2 separate regions of the Homo sapiens genome follow, and region 2 is linked to region 1. Evidence: fine-mapped expression QTL. A gene starts in region 1. The other region holds a variant in brackets. All regions are shown on one strand. Distances are between the middles of the regions. Region 1 holds the start of NIPSNAP2 (nipsnap homolog 2). Region 2 overlaps EGFR (epidermal growth factor receptor).

What was found. PIP is the estimated chance that this variant, and not a neighbour inherited with it, causes the effect.
Region 2: its variant is fine-mapped to the expression of NIPSNAP2 in lymphoblastoid cells (GTEx, PIP 0.96).

The regions. Positions count from the first base shown.
Region 1 is chr7:55,959,170-55,968,168 of GRCh38, forward strand. NIPSNAP2 (nipsnap homolog 2) reads left to right here and starts at 5,416. Exons shown (of 10, transcript NM_001483.3): 1 at 5,416-5,532. The coding sequence starts at 5,441. RefSeq lists enhancers at 5,076-5,155, 5,725-6,458 and silencers at 5,306-5,415, 5,476-5,955.
Region 2 is chr7:55,093,682-55,104,145 of GRCh38, forward strand. All of the region lies in intron 1 of EGFR (epidermal growth factor receptor), which reads left to right. Among named protein-coding and RNA genes, the nearest start is that of EGFR, 80 kb to the left of the region's middle. The variant G/A (reference allele first, on the strand shown) is at 4,622.

The DNA of each region.
Region 1 (8,999 bases):
CGCTGCACTCCAGCCGGGGCAACAGAGCGAGACTCTGTCTCAAAAAAAAAAAGAAAAGAAAAGTCAAATCAGTGATAGTAAGAATACGCTTCAGAAGTTCTCTAAGAATGTAGAGGAAAAGGATAAAGAAATGAAAGTAACGAGAATGATAGTTCTGTGAGACTGAATTTTAAAACTCCAATATAAATATAATACATTTTTCAGAATAGAGTAGAACAAAAACAACAAACTAATGAAAAAAAGAAATAGAAAACATTTTTTCTTGACCTTTAGAAAAATCATGTTCTATAAAAAGAGATCCTCACATAGACATATCCTGGCAAAATATGTATTGAAATGCTGGAAAACTTCAAACCATTCCAGGATCTGAGAAAAGTACTTAGAACTGAATGAAAATCAGACTGACCCTGGCTTTTTCTCTGTGATAGAAAGTTCAAGAAAACACCAGAATACCATCTACACAGTTGAGGGGAAGGGTTAGAAACCCAAGGAGTAACCAGAGATTTTGAAAACACACTTGTGTAGTCTGATATCTGTGAAAATAACATGCTTGGCTGTTTTTGCTTTGAGAGTACATATCACTAATAAGCAGCTTAAAAAAAAAGATCACCTTAGTTCAACCATTGTGGAAGACAGTGTGGCGATTCCTCAAGAATCTAGAACCAGAAATACCATTTGATCCAGCAATCCCATTACTGGGTATGTACTCAAAGGATTATAAATCATTCTACTATAAATACACATGCACACATATGTTTATTGCAGCGCTACTTACAATAGCAAAGACCTGGAACCAACCCAAATGCCCATCAATGATAGACTGGATAAAGAAAATGTGACACATATACACCATGGAATACTATGCAGCCATTAAAAAGAATGAGTTCATGTCCTTTACAGGGACATGGATGAAGCTGGAAACCATCATTCTCAGCAAACTAACACAGGAACAGAAAACCAAACACTGCATGTTCTCACTCAAGTGGGAGTTGAACAATGAGAACACATCGACACAGGGCGAGGAACATCACACACCGGGGCCTGTTGGGGCAAGGGAAGGGAGACCATTAGGACAAATACCTAATGCATATGGGGCTTAAAACATAGATGATGGGTTGATAGGTGCAGCAAACCACCATGGCACATGTATACCTATGTAACAAACCTGCATGTTCTACACATGTATCCCAGAACTTAAAATTAAAAAAAAAATTAAAAATAAAGCATCAGACGTCTCCAAGTGGTGCTCCTAGCATATGGTGACACATGTGTCACCAGCTCTGGGATGGAGTCCAAGCCGTCTCTAAAATATTTTAAAGGTTTAAATATTTAAACATTTATAAATAAGCATCATTTATAAATATGTTAAAATATAAATGATGCTTAAGTACCAATGAAGTATTAAAGTATAAATATAAAATTAAAAGCATGTGAAAATATAAATAGTACCTAAGTACCATCAAAGGATTAAAATATAAATGATGATGGCCAGGCGTGGTGGCTCACGCCTGTAATCCCAGCACTTTGGGAGGCTGAGGCAGGCGGATCATGAGATCAGGAGTTGGAGACCAGCCTGACCAACACGGTGAAACCCCATTTCTACTAAAAATACAAAAGTTAGCCGGGGCGTGGTGGTGCACACATGTAATCCCAGCTACTCAGGAGACTGAGGCAGATTCTCAAGGAGAATCGCTTGAACCTGGGAGGCGGAGGTTGCAGTCAGCCAAGATCGTGCCACTGCACTCCAGTCTGGGTGACAAGAGTGAGACTCCATCTCAAAAAAATAAAAAATAAAATAAAATATAAATGATGTATAAGTACCATTGAAGTATTAAAATATGAATGATACCTAAGTACCATTGAAGCATTAAAATATAAGTGATACCTAAGTATCATTCAAGTATTAAAATAGAAATGATACTTAAGTACCATCGAAGTATTAAAATATAAATTATACCTAAGTACCACTGAAATGTTAACATATAAATGATACTTGTTTATATTTTAACACATACTTTTTCCTGAGAGTCTTTGTATAAAACTTATGCTCCAGGAAGACTTGCTATGTTTATTCTATGGCTTCAAATATCTGAAGCCACACAGCTGTGAAATCAGAGTACCCTCTTTTTCCCCAGTAAAAAGTCCTGAGTGAATGGAACTCCACAACAAAATGATAGTGGAGAAAAGCAATGCAGGCTAAGCAGGCTAATACTAAACACAAAAGCAAGGTCAGCAAAGAAGTGTCTAGCTACAGTTTATATTTCAGAATAAATTTAAAAGCAGGTGTCTCATGAAACAGAGCTGAGAAATTGGGGGCATTTGTGACAGTCACAGGAGCTCATCCACCCTTAAAGAGGCCTGGCCTCCTGCTCTGTAGGGCTGGGCCAAGTCCTTGATACCCTGGAGAGAGCTCACTTCTGCCTCTCTTTGGAGTGTGAGAAACACACTCACCCATTCAAACCCAAAGAATGGACTTAGAGGCATGAAGAACAGTGAAAGTGAGACTTTTTTTTTTTTTTGAGAGTCTGTCTTGATCTGTCACTGAGGCTGGAGTGCAGCAGTGCGATCTCAGCTCATTGCTGAGCTGAGATCACCTCCCAGGTGAATCTCCATCTCCCAGGTTCAAGTGATTTTCCTGCCTCAGCCTCCCGAGTAGCTAGGATTACAGGCATGCGCCACCACACCCGGCTAATTTTTGTATTTTTAGTAGAGATGGGGTTTCACCATGTTGGCCAGGCTGGTCTTGAACTCCTGACCTCAGGTGATCCACCAGCCTCAGCCCCCCAAAATGCTGGGATTATAGGCATGAGCCACCGCACCCGGACAAAAGTAAGACTTTTTAATAATGGTTTTGCAAGATCGGATGTGTGATGGGCAGGCACACCCAGTGCAGTTTCAACAATTTATCCCCTAGAGCACAGGTCCCTCCCCAGTTCCTCACAGGCTGAGTAATATGGGGTTGCAGTCTTCCTGGACATCACCTAAGTTCCATTATCCCCTTATTAGGTTACATCTTGTCCTCTTCCCTACTTGAAGTTTCGATTTCCCAATGGCTAAGCTTTCTTTCCTTTTATGGATTAGACACCCCTGCCACTTTTCTCCCTCCCCTCTGACTTCTGTGAGTTTTATCACTCTTCCCAGATGTCTGTACCCGTGCATCTTGTCACATCCACAAGGGAACTGCCCAGACTTGTCTGTTTTCTGAAAATGGACCACTTAAAAAGTACTTCTTACAGGGTTCTCCACAGCTTTACTAAGCATACACTAGTTGAGGCCAGGAGGTCCTCAGCCACACAGCCTCTGGCCTCCTATCCTTGTGTCCCTTGGCCTCCATCCCACTGGCCTCCAAGGGACAGGTGCCTTTCCCTGCTCTGGGGCAAAGCCCTCCTCCATCCACAGGGTCCACCTCTGTCCTCCCTGGTGGCTCCTTGCCATATTAACGTGTTCAAATTCTACCCCAGTCAGAAAACTGCACCCCTTGAGCCCTGATGCTCCCTTGGCCCCCAAGATTACCAGCTTCAGGGAACCTCCCAGTTTTTGTCCACCTTATGACCTCCAAGCAACCCAGTCCTGAGGGCACTTTCCTCTCTGCCTCTGCAGCCCCGCACTGGCCTGGAAATGCTCCCTTTGGTGGCCAGAGCCCCTACTTCTCCCAGGTTCTCCCCCACCCCCAGGGTCCAGCTTCCTTCCTCCTGCCCTCACCTTGGTTGCAGTTTTCATGGTTATATTTGTGGCTTTTTTCTTTTTCTTTTCTTTTTTTTTTTGAGATGGAGTCTCACTCTGTTGCCCAGGCTGGAGTGCAGAGGCACAATCTCGGCTCACTGCACCCTCCACCTCCCAGGTTCAAGCAATTCTCCCACTTCAGCCTCTCGAGTAGCTGGGATTACAGGCACCCGACAACATGCCTGCCTAATTTTTGTATTTTTGTAGAGATGGGATTTCACCATATTGGCCAGGCTGGTCTCGGACTCCTGACCTCAGGTGATCCGCCCGCCTCGGCCACCCGAAGTGCTGGGATTACAGACGTGAGCCACCGTGCCTGGCTCATTTGTGGCTTTTTAAAAAATCTTCCTGGAGGACACATTTTTCCCTCTATAGCGCCAGCCACCCAGATCCACGCCTTTGCTTAAGTTATTTCCTCAAGACAGGGATGCCCTCCCTTCTTCCCCTGGGACTGATATGTCCTGCCAGCTCCTTGGAGAACTTTCTCCCCATCTATCCTCTAATTCACAGCCACCCCCGGTTACATGCTCTCTTTCCGTGCCTCTTTCGTGTCTCATGAACCTGTCCATTTTGACACTTAACACACTCGGTCCAATCATCATTGTACATTCTGTCCCCACTAGACCCAGACGGCCTTGAGGGTAAGGTACCAAGGACTCCCCATGGCCAGTGCCCACCGGTGCTGAAATGAATGGGAACGATGCAGTCCCAAGACCTCAAGAGAACCTTCCCAGTCCTTTCTCCTTAATTTTTTTTGTGTGTGTATGGTGTTTTTTAATTTTTTCCTCACTTGCTTTCTTTTCTTTTCCTTTCTCTCTTTCTTTCTTTCTCCTGCCTCCCTCCCTTCCTTTCTTTCTCCTTCCTTCCCTCCTTTCTTTCTCCTGCCTCCCTTCCTTCCTCCTTTCTTTCTCCTTCCTTCCTTCCTTTCCCTCCCTTTCTTTCTCTCTCTTTCTCTCTTTCTTTCTTTCGCTACAGGACGTCGTGTGTTTGCCCAGGCTGGAGTGCAGTGGCACGATCATAGTTCACTACAGCCTCCACCTCCTGAACTCAAGCGATCCTTCTGCCTCAGTCTCCAGTGTAGCTGGCATCACAGACGTGCTCCTCCATGCCCGGCTAATTTAAAAATGTTTTTGCACAGTGAGGGCTCGCTATGTTGCCCAGGTTGGTCTCGAACTCCTGGCCTCAAGAGATCTCCGGCCTCAGCCTCCCAAAGTGCTGGGATGACAGGCGTGAGCTATTGCGTCCGGCCCCAGAATGCACTTGTTAAAGCGTTGTGGGGCTTTTTGAAATGACAATATATTCATATACTACAAAATTTAAAAGACATTGGCGGGGTGGGGTGGGGGTAAACCCACTGCCACTGCCCCGCCCCAGGCCCTGGATTCCCCTAGGCACAGTGTTACTCTTTCCTTTTGGAGTTTTCCCTGATCATTGAAGTTATGCCCTTGTCCCTTCTGCACCCGCGCTTCTGGGCACCGAGCTCCTCCCGCTGAAGTGATCGGCTTGCACTGACTGCGCTTGGGCTTCGCGCTTTCCCGCAGCGGCCGGGCCTTGGCGCCTGGACGCCCCGCCGACCCCCGCGGCCGCGCGCCCTGCTCCCCCTGGCGGCCGCGCCCCGCACTGCAGTGGCCGCGTTGGGGCCCGGCCGGGGGAGGGGTCGCGCGGCGGCGGCGTCAGCGGCGGCGCCCGGGCGGTGGGAGCCGAGGCGCCGAGCAAGATGGCGGCGCGAGTGCTGCGCGCCCGCGGAGCGGCCTGGGCCGGCGGCCTCCTGCAGCGGGCGGCCCCCTGCAGCCTCCTGCCCAGGCTCCGGTGAGCAGCGCCGCCCTTCCCGGGAGGTGCCGGGGAGGGGCCGCCGCGAGGCGGAGGGCGCGGGTTTCCCGGCGCCGGTCTCCGCCCCGGCCCTGTCCCCAGCGCGGGTGGCTGCCCGGCCTCGGGGCAGTGGGGCCGGAGCTGGGGTGGGGCCGGAGCTGGGGCGGGGTCGGGGCGTCCTCGGGCTCAAGGTCACGGAGGGGACGGGCCGCTCTGCGGCTCCACCCTCGCCCGGGAAGGCCCCCGAGGCTTGGCCCGGAGGCCACATCCTCCCCGCGGCGCTGGCCCGGCCTGCAGGGCCCTGACCGGCGCGACCCGTGGCCAGGGACAGGGACAGCGCGCGCCTGAGGCCGCAGGCCCCGGACGCCGTCTGCTGGGTCCTCGCCGGAGGCTGTTCCAAGCCTGAGTGGCTGCGTCTGCCGAGGACGTTGGTGACCCTGGTCTCTGAGGTGCCGGGAGTAGGGAATAAAAGAGTAAAGCATTGTCCCGGGCCAGCTCTCCGCGGAGCGTAGGGGAAGTTAGAGCTTGGAGGAGGTCAAATCACTTAACGTCTTGGAGTTGAAATTTAAAGCCGGCCGTGGATCTAAAAGTACTTAGAGTTATCAGCACTAAGTTCAGGCGTGGGGCTCTTGTTTAAACTTTTTTTTTTTTCTAACTTCAGTGGATTGGACGTTTGGTTGTCCAAATTCATCACCTTGATATTTGCATGTGCTGTTTTCCACATTCAAACAGCAAAGCCTATCCTGACTTACCCAGAGTTGCTTTCTCGTATTCATTGCTTTGGGTAGTTTAAATTACCTAAGGAACTGTGTGTTAAACTCGCCATGGGCCAGGGAGGTTTCAGTAACATGGTTTATTATTATTATTATTGTTGTTGTTTATTTATTTATATTTTTGAGACGGAGTTTTGCTCTCGTTGCCCCGGCTGAAGTGCAACGGCACGATCTTGTCTCACTGCAACCTCCGCCTCCCGGGTTCAAGTAATTCTCCTGCCTCATCCTCCCAAGTAGCTGGGATTACAGGCATGCACCACCACACCCGGCTAATTTTTGTATTTTTAGTAGAGACGGGGTTTCACCATGTTGGTCAGGCTGATCTCGAACTCCTGACCTCAGGTGATCCACCTGCCGCGGCCTCCCAAAGTGCAGGGATTACAGTCGTGAATCACCAGGCGCGGCCTGATCTTTTTAAAAAGATGAGTCTGACTTGGGAGAGGGGGCAGAATTAAGGGTAGTGGCCAGCTGAGTGGACCCTGGCACTGAGAGTTGAGAGTTTGCAGAGAGCTGTTCTGCCAAAATGTGAGTGCCTACCACGTGCCAGGCACTGTTGACTGTTGAGAGACATCAGTGAATAAGGCGTCCAAGGCCATCCGGAGCTTACCAGTAATTCAGGAGGGCTGGGGAAGAAGAATTCAGAGCAGTTTAGGACCTGGTAAAGTTTGTGAAGGCTGTGTGCTATTCAAGTGGAAACGCAAACAGACAGTTGGCAGTATGACTCCTCAAAGGAGGTGTCTGGGCTACAGGTAACATTTAGGAGTTGTCAGTATATAGGAATGCTAAATGTTAATAGACACATGGATTTCATTATACTGTTTCGTATTTGATTTACGTTTTTCATAATAAAGCCTGGACGCAGTGACTCACACTTGTAATCCCTGCACTTTGGAAGGTTGCGGCAGGAGGATTGCTTGAGCCCAGGAGTTTGAGACCAGCCTGGGCAACATAGTGGAACTCTGTCCCTAATAATAAATAAGTACATAAATAAAAATTTGTATAATGAAACTTTTTTTAAACCATAGGAAGCCGGGTGCAGTGGCTCAGGCTGTAATCCCAGCACTTTGGGAGGCCGAGCTGGGCTGATCGCTTGAGCTCAGGAGTTCGAGACCATCCCAGGCAACATGACAAAACACATCTCTACAAAAAATACAAAAATTAGCCCGGCATGGTGGCACACGCCTGTAGTCCCAGCTACTTGGTAGGCTGAGGTGGGAGTATGGCTTGAACCTGGGAGGTGGAGGTTGCAGTGAGCCGAGATCATGCCACTGCGTTCCAGCCTAGGTGACAGAGCCAGACCCTGTCTCCAAAATAAAACAAACAAAAAAATATAGGAATGTGTGAGATTGCTTGAGGCGAGAGTGTGGAGAGAGAAGGGGCTGCAAAGCAAGTCCTGGGATGTGCAGCGTATATAGGCTGAATGTAGGAGGGGGAGCTGGCAAGCTCATTGTTATGTGGCAGTGGCCAGGAGGAGGGAGGGAGTGCCATCCGCTGCCAAAGTGTTAGGTAAAATGACAGAAGAAAACAGGATTTGCTGAATCAGTTTCAGCAAGGGAGAAGGGCGTCCTCCCGGGAGCCTCATCCCTGCCTGTACATTAGCCAGCGTATTTCACTTAGTGCTGCTCAGCAGCAAGCTTGGAATTCCCAGCCGCTTCCTGGACATTGCATAAGTGTCTCACAGGTGCTTAAAACACTGCTGTACCCAGGATTTAACTCCTCTTCCTTCTGTGAAGCCTGCTTTTCTTTGGTTGTTCTTCTCCAGTCATGAAACATTTTCCATGTGGTGGCCCAGGCCAGACACCAGATGGTCTTCCCCAAGCCCATCCCTCTTTTTCCCGCCATCTATCATTTACCAAATCTGTCAGTTCTGCCTCTAGTATGTCTTGAATCCACCCTCTCCATCTTCACTGCCCTAGCTCAACCCTCAGCAATACTCGTCTGGATTCCTACGAAGAGTGTGGGCTCGAACCTGTTAGTGAAGGGGATGACTAAAGAATTTTTTTTTTTCCTTGGAGATAGTCTTGCCCTGTTGCCCAGGCTGGAGTTTAATGGCATGACCACGGCTCACTGCAGCCTTGACCTTCCGGACTTAAGGGATCTTCCCACCTCAGCCTCCCAAGTAGCTGGGACTACAGGCCCACACCACCATGCCCAGCTATTATTTATTTATTTATTTATTTATTTATTTATTTGAGACAGAGTGTCACTCTGTTGCCCAGGCTGGAGTTCAGTGGCGTGATCTCGGCTCCCTGCAACCTCCACCTCCTGGGTTCAAGCAGTTCTCCTGTCTCAGCTACCTGAACAGCTGGGACTTACAGGCGTGCACCACCACGCCTGGATAATTTTTGTATTTTTAGTAGAGATGGGGTTTCTCCATGTTGCCCAGGCTGGTCTCAAACTCCTGGCCTCAAGTGATCCTCCCACCACGGCCTCCCAAAGTGCTGGCATTACAGGGATGAATCACCACACCCGGCTGCTAATTTTTAATTTTTTTGTAGAGAGGGGGGTCTTGCTATGTTCCCCAGGCTAGTCTCAAACTCCTGGCCTCAAGCAGTCCTCCCACCCTCCGCCTCCCAAAGTTCTAGGATTATAGGTGTGAGCCATTGTGCCCAGCCACACGTCTAAAGAATTCTAAGCGGACATTTTCCTAGTAGAAAGATCTCTATGACACAAACCTTGACTGGTTCCTAATCC
Region 2 (10,464 bases), 860 kb before region 1:
AGACTCATTCCAATTTTGATGGAAACTTTTAGCTGGTGGATGGCATTTTGTTTTGTCTTAGTTTTGCAAGGAGTTATCTTAATTTAGGGAGATGAAACTAGTCTGTGATCCGAGGTCTCACTTCCATACATTTCTCTCGGGCAGTGTGGCTGCCTGAATCATGCCTGGATGCCACAGGTGCTTAGCCAGCTGGTCCTGTCGTAACTGTCACTGGTAGCTCAGGGAGTGCAGAGGTGCCAGCAGACACTATGAAATTGGCCTCGTAAAGCATCAGTTATGTTGTGATGGTGGCAAAGCTGCAGGCGAGATGGGAAGTGCAGCCACTGAGAACTCACAGTAGAGCGTGTGTAACGTAAAAAGATGAAACCCATTGTACACAGCTGTGTACTGCCTCCTTGAAGTCAAATTTCCCCCATTACCAAGGAAAAGTTTTTTCTGAAGGGGGCTGCTTGACAGGATGACATCTGGTGATATCATTTATTCCTTTGGAAATCAATCTGTGGAAGTGAGTTTCCACTGACTGATGAGGAGAAAAATGAATTGGCTTCACCCAGCATCCAGCTTCTTATCCTGGGAGAGATAGCTCTTGGTCTGTCATCCACGCAGCTGCCTGGTGCAAGAGCCAAGTTTGTGCAGCCTGCAGAGCACTCTTCCTGAGCTGTGGGCTGCCAGGTCGGGGGGCAGGGGGGGCCTCACTGTGCAGCCTCCTGCCACCCACTGATCATCTGGGGAGACTGGCCTATCCTGTCAGGAGACGCAGTTGCCCAGACGTTTTCAAGGGCCTAAGATGTAGGCAGTTGATCCACAGATTTTTGGAGAGTCCTTGAGTTGGAGATTACAGGTGACCTCAGAGGAGGGAGTGAGAACATCTGGGTCATGGGTTTCTACTAGGAGTCCACAGTGAAAACAAGAAGAGGAATTTACGACAAGACAGTCCAGCAACTTCCTTTCTAACTTCTCCTTTCACATATGCTGGATACTCCAAGACTTTGCATTTACATGGACATCACAGATCCACTTTGAGAGAAGTAGGGTAAAAAGAAATAAATACATAGTGCTTTAGGTGTATTTCTATACATCTTAATTGATATGGGATTACATTTTCACTTGTGTTTACTGTACAGACTCTAGACAGATCCTGCTCTTTTGCAGGTAAAACAAATATTTCTTAAAACCTAGAAAGACCCAAAACAATTTAACAGAAACATTTTGGACCATTTTGGACCTTGGCAGTTAGGCCCCAGTGCAGCAGCGGCAACCATAAACCTCTCCATAGGTGCTGAACCCAGGTGATCCCTGGCACCGGCAGCCTTATGTCAGGGCTCTCTTATCGCTGGTTTTTATTTCTCCTAATAAAAGTGATTAAAAGATTCATCTTTTAAAGAAAGCAAGGACACAGAGGTGGATTCTCCCTGACGCTAGCACAGCTCATGCCCAAGCCACTCCTGCAGGGCTCTGGTCTAAGTGCAAAAGCTGGAAAAGCTGCAGGTCCCGCAAGACACAGAGCAACCCTGCAAGCCAGGTCACCTTCCCTCTTCTCTGCTGTCCGACTGGCCCTCCACCATGTGACATTCAAAAGCTCAAGTTACTTAACCTCTCAAAACTCAGCATCCTTTTCTGTACAGTGGGGAAGATACTGGACTGTTGTGAGGATTAAGTGAGGAGAGTGGCCCAATGAGGTTGACAGTTATTACTGTCATTGTCATTATTTGCCTTCTCACAGGCAGGCGTGCCACAGTCATTTTACTGAAGCTGCTTCAGTGGGTCCTGAATTAGGCCCTGTCCTTTGGGAGAGACAGTCCTGGTTCAACACACAGCTCCCTGCCCAGGGCAGCTTGGGAGTGTGGGCCAGTTTCGCCTTTAGAACCACAATTCTCTGATATGTGCAATGAGAGAATTAATTATAGACTCAAAGGATTGCATGCAGACACACACAGATACAAACACATACACACAACACACAGAGTTACACACAGACATGCTCACAATACACAGAAATACACACAGACACACGCACACAGCACACAGAGATACACACAGACACACACACACACACACACAGACATACGCACAGATGGGCACACACAGAGACACACTCACAGAGACACACAGATACACACAGGCACACACACAGAGAGACATACACACAGCCCACAGGGATACACACAGACACACAGAGACATACCTACAACACACAGAGATACACACAGTCACACACAGAGAGACATACATACAATACACAGAGATACACACAGAGACACAGATACAGACACAGACAGACATACACACAGACACGGGCACACACAGAGACACACAGACACACACAGGCACACACGTGCAGATAAGGTAATATTAGCTAGTTCAGGAGGAGAAAGAGATAAAGATAAAGTAATATTAGCTAGTTCAGGAGGAGTGAAAGAAGCCTTGTTTTTCTCCACTTTTTATAGAAGAGAAAGTGAAGATTCGATTTGAGGTGAGTTCAGCACAAAAGCGTATCCCAGGCCCTCTGGCTCCAACTGCAGCCCTTTCTACCTCATTCCCAGACCCCACCTAAGCCTTTTCTCTTCAAAATCTTCTCAGGCACACTGATACACATACCTCAGATTTTTAATTCTCCGGTTGTGTTCACCAGGTGCTTGGTCATGATTAAGAATTCCGTGATGTGTACCCCATGTGTTTAAATTTGCTGCTGAGTTAACTTTGTGGCGGCCTGTGGACTAGACCTCTGCACATGCAATGCAGAACGGCAGGGCCAGATTTGAAATCCTGCTATCTTTTCGGCTGCCTTGTAAAAATAACATCAGGCGATGGGGATACGATGCCAGAGGTCACCTGTGATAAGTTCTGTTTATGGCCATTTTACTTCTAGGAAGACAGGAAGTGTCAGGATCTCAGGGATCTAGGAAGCCAAAATGTTTTTCCACTCTGAAATAAAGTGACTGACCAGGAGTTCCCGGCCACGCAGCCCTGTGGGAACTGCCGCACGGCCACTTTTATGAAGTGGACACGTGTTGGTCCCACTGAAAAGAAACTCCCCACCCATGGCTCCCTCACGCTGCAGCAGAGGCCCTGCCACAGCACCTGTCAGCCCCTGCCAGCTTGCAGGGGCGCAGGCGCAGAGCGGTTTGTGCCCTTGCTGGAGCCAGGGAAGGGCACAGGGTCCCTCCTGGAGTCATGGGAGGTGCAGCCGAGGTTCTATATTAAAATACAGAGGCTAGCACATGTGCTTGGGGAATGCAGCTACAGTAGTGGAATGAAAGTGCTGTCCGTTCCTTACCCCCCCAGCTCCTCACCTGTCCTCCACACGCATATCCCTGGCTCCCTTTCCCTAGTAAGGAGACTGAATTGAAATTGTGGCTTGCCCGAGGCTGCATACCTGTGCTCTTTCTGAAGCCCAAGTCACTGGCTCTAGAATTCTAACCTGTGAGGAAGCCACTGAGGATGTTTGTCAAAATACATATTTCTGTGCCTTGCCCCAGTTCCACGGCCCAGGAATCTGCAGTTTTCACAAGCACCCCCAGGTGATTCTGGTGGTGTCTTTGCACTTCTTCAAGGCAGTACTGCCTGGAACGCAGAATCCCAGCCTCCTCTATCCTCCTTGCCTAATGGCCTGGATGCTCTCAGATCTACAGGGGAAGGGAAGGTCACACAGTCATCGCAATAGTAACCTCAGCTGATAAATCCTCCCCCATAAAACTTATTCCCCAGTGTTTTTTAATAGGAAACAATAAAACTGTAACCAGCCCAAATATCCATCAAAGAGAAAATGGAGAAGTAAATCATCGCACATTCACCTGGACCAGATCTATTGTAAAGCCAATAATACTGAAGCCCCTTCCAAGGCCCTGGGAGTCCTAACAGTGCACTGGCAGTGTCTATAATTTATATTATGAAATTTGCATAAGGAAAACATTTTGTCTCATTTGTGCAATTTCTCCTTCTAAATATACGTGTCACTTTGTACCTGATTTCTATAAGACCCAGGACCTACAAACCCTGTGTCTGCCCCTGCAGCCACCCAGGGAAGGACTGCACAGCAGCAAGACAGATTGCCATGGAGCATGTTGTGCCCAACTAGGGACAGCGCAGATAGATTCTGTAATTTGCCTAACAATGTCTATAGGATGATCCCATTTGTCAAAAAAAAAAAAGAACTGGGCTTTATTGATGTCACCTAAATGCACCTAAACTTCTTTTTTGCCCCATGCTCTTCTGTACTCTTGATCTTTCCCCAAATTTTTAAAAACATGACACTCATTCCCTTATTTTTCCTACTTAGAAAAGTGTAGATGGTTTTATCATAGGAAGTTCAAAAAAATTAAAATATAATGAAAAATACTCAAATAGTGCCTCACAACAGTAACTACTGCTAACATAAATAAAATCCATATTTCCTCTCATACAGACCCCAGAGTTGCTTTGCCTGACAGTGTAGTTGATGGAGAAAATAATCTTTATCCTTAGCCTCCATCTGGTTGCAGACCATAAAGACAGGGAAAAAATGAGGGTGTTGGTAGCTTCGTTAGAAACTGAAAGCTCACTGATTTTTTCAAAACCTAAATAGCCTGTGTTTCTCCAAATAACTAATTTGCAGCCTTCGGCAGCCAGGACTGGCAGGGAT[G/A]GGGCTAGGGGGACTGGGGAGAACTGCTCTCTCCTGAGGGTGGTCTGACCCGACAGCACGCATGACCTTCCCACAGTCAGGAACTGCTCAGAGACGTGATGGCAACTCCATAGAATGAAATACTCTTCAGCCAGTAAAATGTATTTTTGGATAAATATTTGCTTTAAAAAACTTTACTATATGTTGTTAAATGAAAAAAAAACCTTAAGGCATCAGAAATTATGTGCAGTAAAATCTCACTTTTGTAAATAAATATACCTGTTTACTACGTATGCATAAAAAGAATCCTGAGAAATATAAGTACTGTATGCATATTGTTGTTAAGTATTTTTTCTGTTTGCTTATCTATAATTCTAATTTTGCTTCAAAGAACAAGTTACTCCGGCAATATAAAAATAAAATAACTAATTTGTCTTGTCATCAAACAGATAGTAAGAACAGGCAAACCTGGCCCTCCACACTGCCAGCCTTTTGTGATTCAAGGCTTCAGTTTCCTCCACTTGTTAAAAAGATTCAACAAAGTAGTTGAAATAGTATGTGAACCAGTAAACCCTAAAAGGTGTCCAGTGTTGTCTGTGAGCTAATTAAGTGATTTGATTCTGACTCCCCGAGTCTTCTGATTTCGAAGCAGTGGGGAGTCAGACAGGAGCCTCAGGTGGCCTCTCCTGAGAGGCCCTGGAAAGTGATGAGAACCTGGCCTCTGGCAGCTCTTCATAAACGTCCATGTTTTCCCTCTACTCTCTCACTCTTTTCCCAGGGCCTCAAACAGAAGATGAAAATCAATTTCTAAAACAGCCCTCTGTGTGCTCTCTCGTATCTCTCCTTTTCACACATCGTGGTGGTGGCTTTCTCTGTGTTCCTCTGTTGATTCAGTCTCTGGAATTAACGGATCAGGATTCCATGCCCAGAATGCTACAAAGACTGTGCTTGAGTTCTCCCACATCTCACTCAATTACACAGAAGTTTCAGATTATGTAACAGATGCTGTGCTGGGTTAGGCAGAGCCATCTGACTTGTTTTGCTTTATTTTAGACCATGAGATGGGTGAGTTTTTCTTTTTAATGCCACATTCTTTTAAGAATTAAAAACCTCCACTTGGCTGTCAGCATTGGAAATCAGAGTGATGGTGCAAGCCCTGATGAGGACAATGTCCTTGTCTATGAAAAGGTGAAATCATTGCTTGAAATCGCTAAGCAGGACATGCAGTCCCAGATGGAGGGGGGAATTCGGGAGCTGGTTGGAAAAGAGTATTTGGCACTTTGCAGCCTTGAGAGGTGCAGAAGAGACACCGAGGGGTTCACCACCAGAGCCACCATTGTCAGAGAGGCGTCCAGCTGTGTCCACCTGGGACTCTGCCTTCAGGGCTTCTTGCCTGGCTGGGAGCTGCACAGGCAGACTCCTGGGACGGTGTGCCGACAGCTCTGGGCACCCCCTTCTAGGATCTGATTCCTGAGGAATCACAATGTGGATTTCACAATCACTTCCAGTGTCTTTTGCCAACCTCTGTGAACAGATGTGCAATTAAAAAAAAAAAAAGAAAGGGGCCCAATTCTCAACACTGTAAGTGGAAACTTTTTAATGGAAAAGGATAGGCTAATGAATTGAATTTGAAATCTGAGACAGAACCGATGCATCAAATGTGCTGGTGTTTACAGATAATACAAGGGGGGCTGCATCTTATGGTTTCAATCCTTTTTTAAATTTTTGTTCTGAGAGACCCAGCCAGCAGACTGCCGCCAGTCTTGTCAGAGATGTCAGTGGTGGCCACTCTGAATGGAAAGCAGCATCTCTCAGCATCTCTGAGGCACTGCTCCTCAGCGGAGACTGTGGTGGCTTTGCCTTTCAGCACGCATCCTTTCTACGATGCCTGACAGTGCCCAGGGAATGGGCAGAGCTGGGAGCTCTGAAGCCCTTTCACCTAAACCACCCTGGGTCACCTGACCTAGTTTTCCTCCCAATTTTAATTATGTCAGGCACTTCACAAAGGCCTCCTTGGGGACACCATGAGCTCACTGTCATCAGATTGCTCCAATCACAGCTGTGGCTTGCACACAACCGCCATCTCTGCCCCAGCAGATGCTGTGTGTAAACAGTTGTATTAATTACATCTCAAAAACATGGTTCTTGCCAGATCCTCAGGATTTGGGTGCAGCCTCTGAGGTGGGTGGGAGGCCCTCGAGGGAGAAATGTCTGCAGGAAATTCTTCCCCTACGAGAGGTCTGTTTTCTAAGTTATCTAAGAGCTACTGCAGCTGTTTACTGCAGAGTGACCCTGCTCAAAGCTGTGGTCACCCAAGGCTTTGAAAGGGGACCTCCACTTCCGCCCTGGGTGGAGCACCGTGCTGGAGACCCACGCCTGCCAAGGCCTCATTGTCATCTCCACACGCCGTCCTTGGGGTGGGCCACTCCTGGGACACGCAGACAGGAAGCCGGCCACCTGAGCCACTCGGAGGCTCTATCCAGAGTCAGCTGCCAAGCCTCACGTCACACATCACTGTTAGTCTTGGAGGGCTGGCGGGGCCCTGAAGTCAATTGAACACTTGGATGACAGGGAACTTGCCACTGCCAGAGGCAATATGCTCCATTTTTTTGACAGTTCCAACAATTTTTCTTTAAACTGTCATAAAAAATTGCTGCTGTGAATACCAGTGTCGGCGTCCCTGCCTCACCTTTACCTGGTGCTTTTCCACCACACAAAACTGTTTCTCCTCGTGCTGGCCTTGGGCTTGCAGACAGCTGATTCTTCTCCTCCCGCGGCTGAGCAGCCTCCTCCGAGCAACCCTCTGACAACTCTGCTCCTTCTGACAACCTCTGCAAGGGCTGCCAGATGTGAACAAGGGGCCCGGGCAGAAGGTATCCAGGAAGACTGGAAACTCGAGGAAGCCTGCCCTGTCCTGTCCACCAGACTTTACGCTTGCGTCACTGGGCTTTGGGACCTAAGTCCTCGTCATTTGTTCCTTTTGCAGTTCCTACTGTTCTCAGCACTTCCTTCCAGCTTACTGAGGTACACTCAGATGTGATATGCCATCGGTACAGACACAGTTCTGCTCCAGCATTTCCCCGTGTTCTTTCTGTCGCTCTATTTACTGAATTACCGTGAGGATGTGGAGCGAGGCTGAGTTCTGTATTTTAACACCATTTTAATTCTCACCTACTGAGAAATCCATCCTCTTATCACTGTGCTTTTTTTAACCTGTCACGAATCCATGAAATCCTATCAGCCAGCCTGCATACTTCCTTTTAAGGTGCAGTTGAATCAGGAGAAACTTGCCGCACATGCTGCGTCCGGGCACAGCATTGGCTGAGGCTGCTGCCCTGACCTGTCCGCTTTGTAGTACTGCCCAGCTATGAAACAGGTTAGCCACACATGACCTGCATTTAGGAGTAACAAGTCTGTCTGTACATGCACATACAGCAACTTTTTTAAACTGTCTATATTTTTTCCTGAGATAGGTATTTATAATATCTCCATCTTCTTTCCCATTTTGAAACTTAGAACAAGTTTGCCTGTCAACAGTTCTCCACAGCATACTGTGTATTCTAGGATTTTCTAAGGTTGAGCAACGGAGGTTCAGCAATTTTGACTTAATTTCTTCCCATCCCTTTTCCACGCAGCCCAGAAGCCTTGGATCACGTGGTGAGGGGAAGAGGTTGTGCTATGTCGGGAAACTCTGTATCGAAGCTCGGCTCAGATCATGACATTCTCTTGACTAAAACCCTCAGTTTCCATCAAACTTGTCACTCTGGCATTAAAGCCTGTCACTGTGTGGCTCTGAAAACCTCTCTGAACGTGTTCCCTGCCTCTGCCCTGCAGGTCCCTGTGCTCCACAGAAGCCCACTTATGTGACCCACCCCCACTCATCACCACCTTCCCTCACCCAGAGCCTCAGCTCCCCACTCCCACCTGTAAGACCCCTACTGGAAAGATTCCCACCTGCCCCTCAAGATTAATCTCCAAGGACATTTCCAAATTCCTCTCCCCATCTCTCAGCCAGATGGCTTTGCTCCCTCCAGGAACCCCAGCCACCTTCGACCTCCAGCAGGGCACTCCACTCCACATTCTCCTGGTCTGTCTGGCTCATCTTACCTGAGCCATGCTCTCCAGGTGAAGGACTATGTCTAACTCAACTCTGCTTTAAAAGCAGCTAACACATTGCTCTTTGCATATTGTTCACTCACTAAGTTGAACTGGACTTGGACATGCACACTGAACTGCAGCGTCTGCTGCTTCTTGGTGGCCCAGCTCGTCAAAAGAATAAGATTTCAGCAAAACAATGTAACAATTTTTTTTACCAAAAGTAATGTTAACAATATATGGTTTTCCCCTGATGTTTGCGTCAAAATGCTTTTTGGAAAAAACATTTTTCAACTCTTTAGGGTCAGAATTAAGCAATGAAATTTATATACCACATGTATAATGTGTATGTTTATCTAAGTATCTGTTCATTTATATATCTTAAATAGAAATTTTAAAAATTTTTTTAAAACTCCTGATAAACATTCTCAGGAGGCACACTATGTAACTGTTGGTTGATATACCTAGCTAGATGGTGAAATCAGATTTTGTTTAAAGCATGGAGGAGAGGGAAAAATTAAATCTTGCAGATTCTGCAGTCCTTAACATCTTTGAAAGAGGAACATTTCAGACAATGTAATAAGAAGGCCACGTGCTTTGACTTCTGTAGATTTTAAAAATACTTCTGTATAGTTTCTTCTTCCTTTGAAGAAGTTTGGGGAGTTTGGGAAGATGGAGAAAGATATAAGAATAGACTCCCCATATGGGTCATGAATTATCTTTTTGCATCAGAACTCTTAGTGCAGTTTCAGTATTTTCTTCCTCAGGAGGGTGAGCTGCTTCCGAATGTCCTCCCCTTCTTTGAGGCATCCTCTGTTGGTGAACTTTGAGAGCATCCATTTATGAAGTTGATGACCTTTCCCAGTCTCTGCAAGCCCTTCAGTGTGTGTCCTCTCTGAGCAAATCTGAATTGTGTGCTTAATACATGGAAAGGGATTTGGGAGGGTTGCTTTTTAAACTGATTTCTTAATTAATATTATGGTTTAGTTAACTAGACAGTCTCATTGCAGAAGTGCATAACCATAATATGTCTTCAAATATATCTCCCTTCCTAACACCCTGTAATATACTTTTGTAAAGATACCCTTACAGAATGTGATCCACCATTTATGAACCTGCAGCATTGCATTCAGAGACTAAGTGAAAAGCTGGCAGATTTTCATTTAAAGCACAAGCTAAGGAAGAAAGCTGGTCTAGAAGGAGCTACAGAAGGGTAATGCTTAGGGAGGGAATGATGTGCCTGTGGGTGGTGGTAGTTAAATCTAACCAAAGAATGATGTCGTGGGTGTTTGGATATTGGATGGTCCACATTGGGCCACATTCTTTCAAACATAAGAGTCTGTAGAAATATGACCTGTAAAAGACTCTTAAATATTCTGGAAACTGTTTCTTCCTTGTCACATCCTTATATATACTTGAACCTATGCCTACCAGACATGACATGTGACTATTCATACAGATTTCATCATCTCTGGTTTAAGAATAAAGGATGCTGCATAGAAGGCTCACATCTTTTAATTCACAAGACTGAAACTGTTCTGAAATGACATTGTTTCTAAAAATTCATTACTTGCATTATATTCATTTTTATTTTTCCATGCCAGAAGGGTAGAAGTTCCTGTGCTCATATTAAGAAACAGCAATGTCAATCGAGGCCCAACTCAAATCCAATTTATAGGAGTTATAAAGGGCGTGTGCCTGTTTTGTCTAGAAGCAGTGTTGGGCAGCACTGAGTAGGATAGACCACCTGTTGCTACCGATAAAGGAGC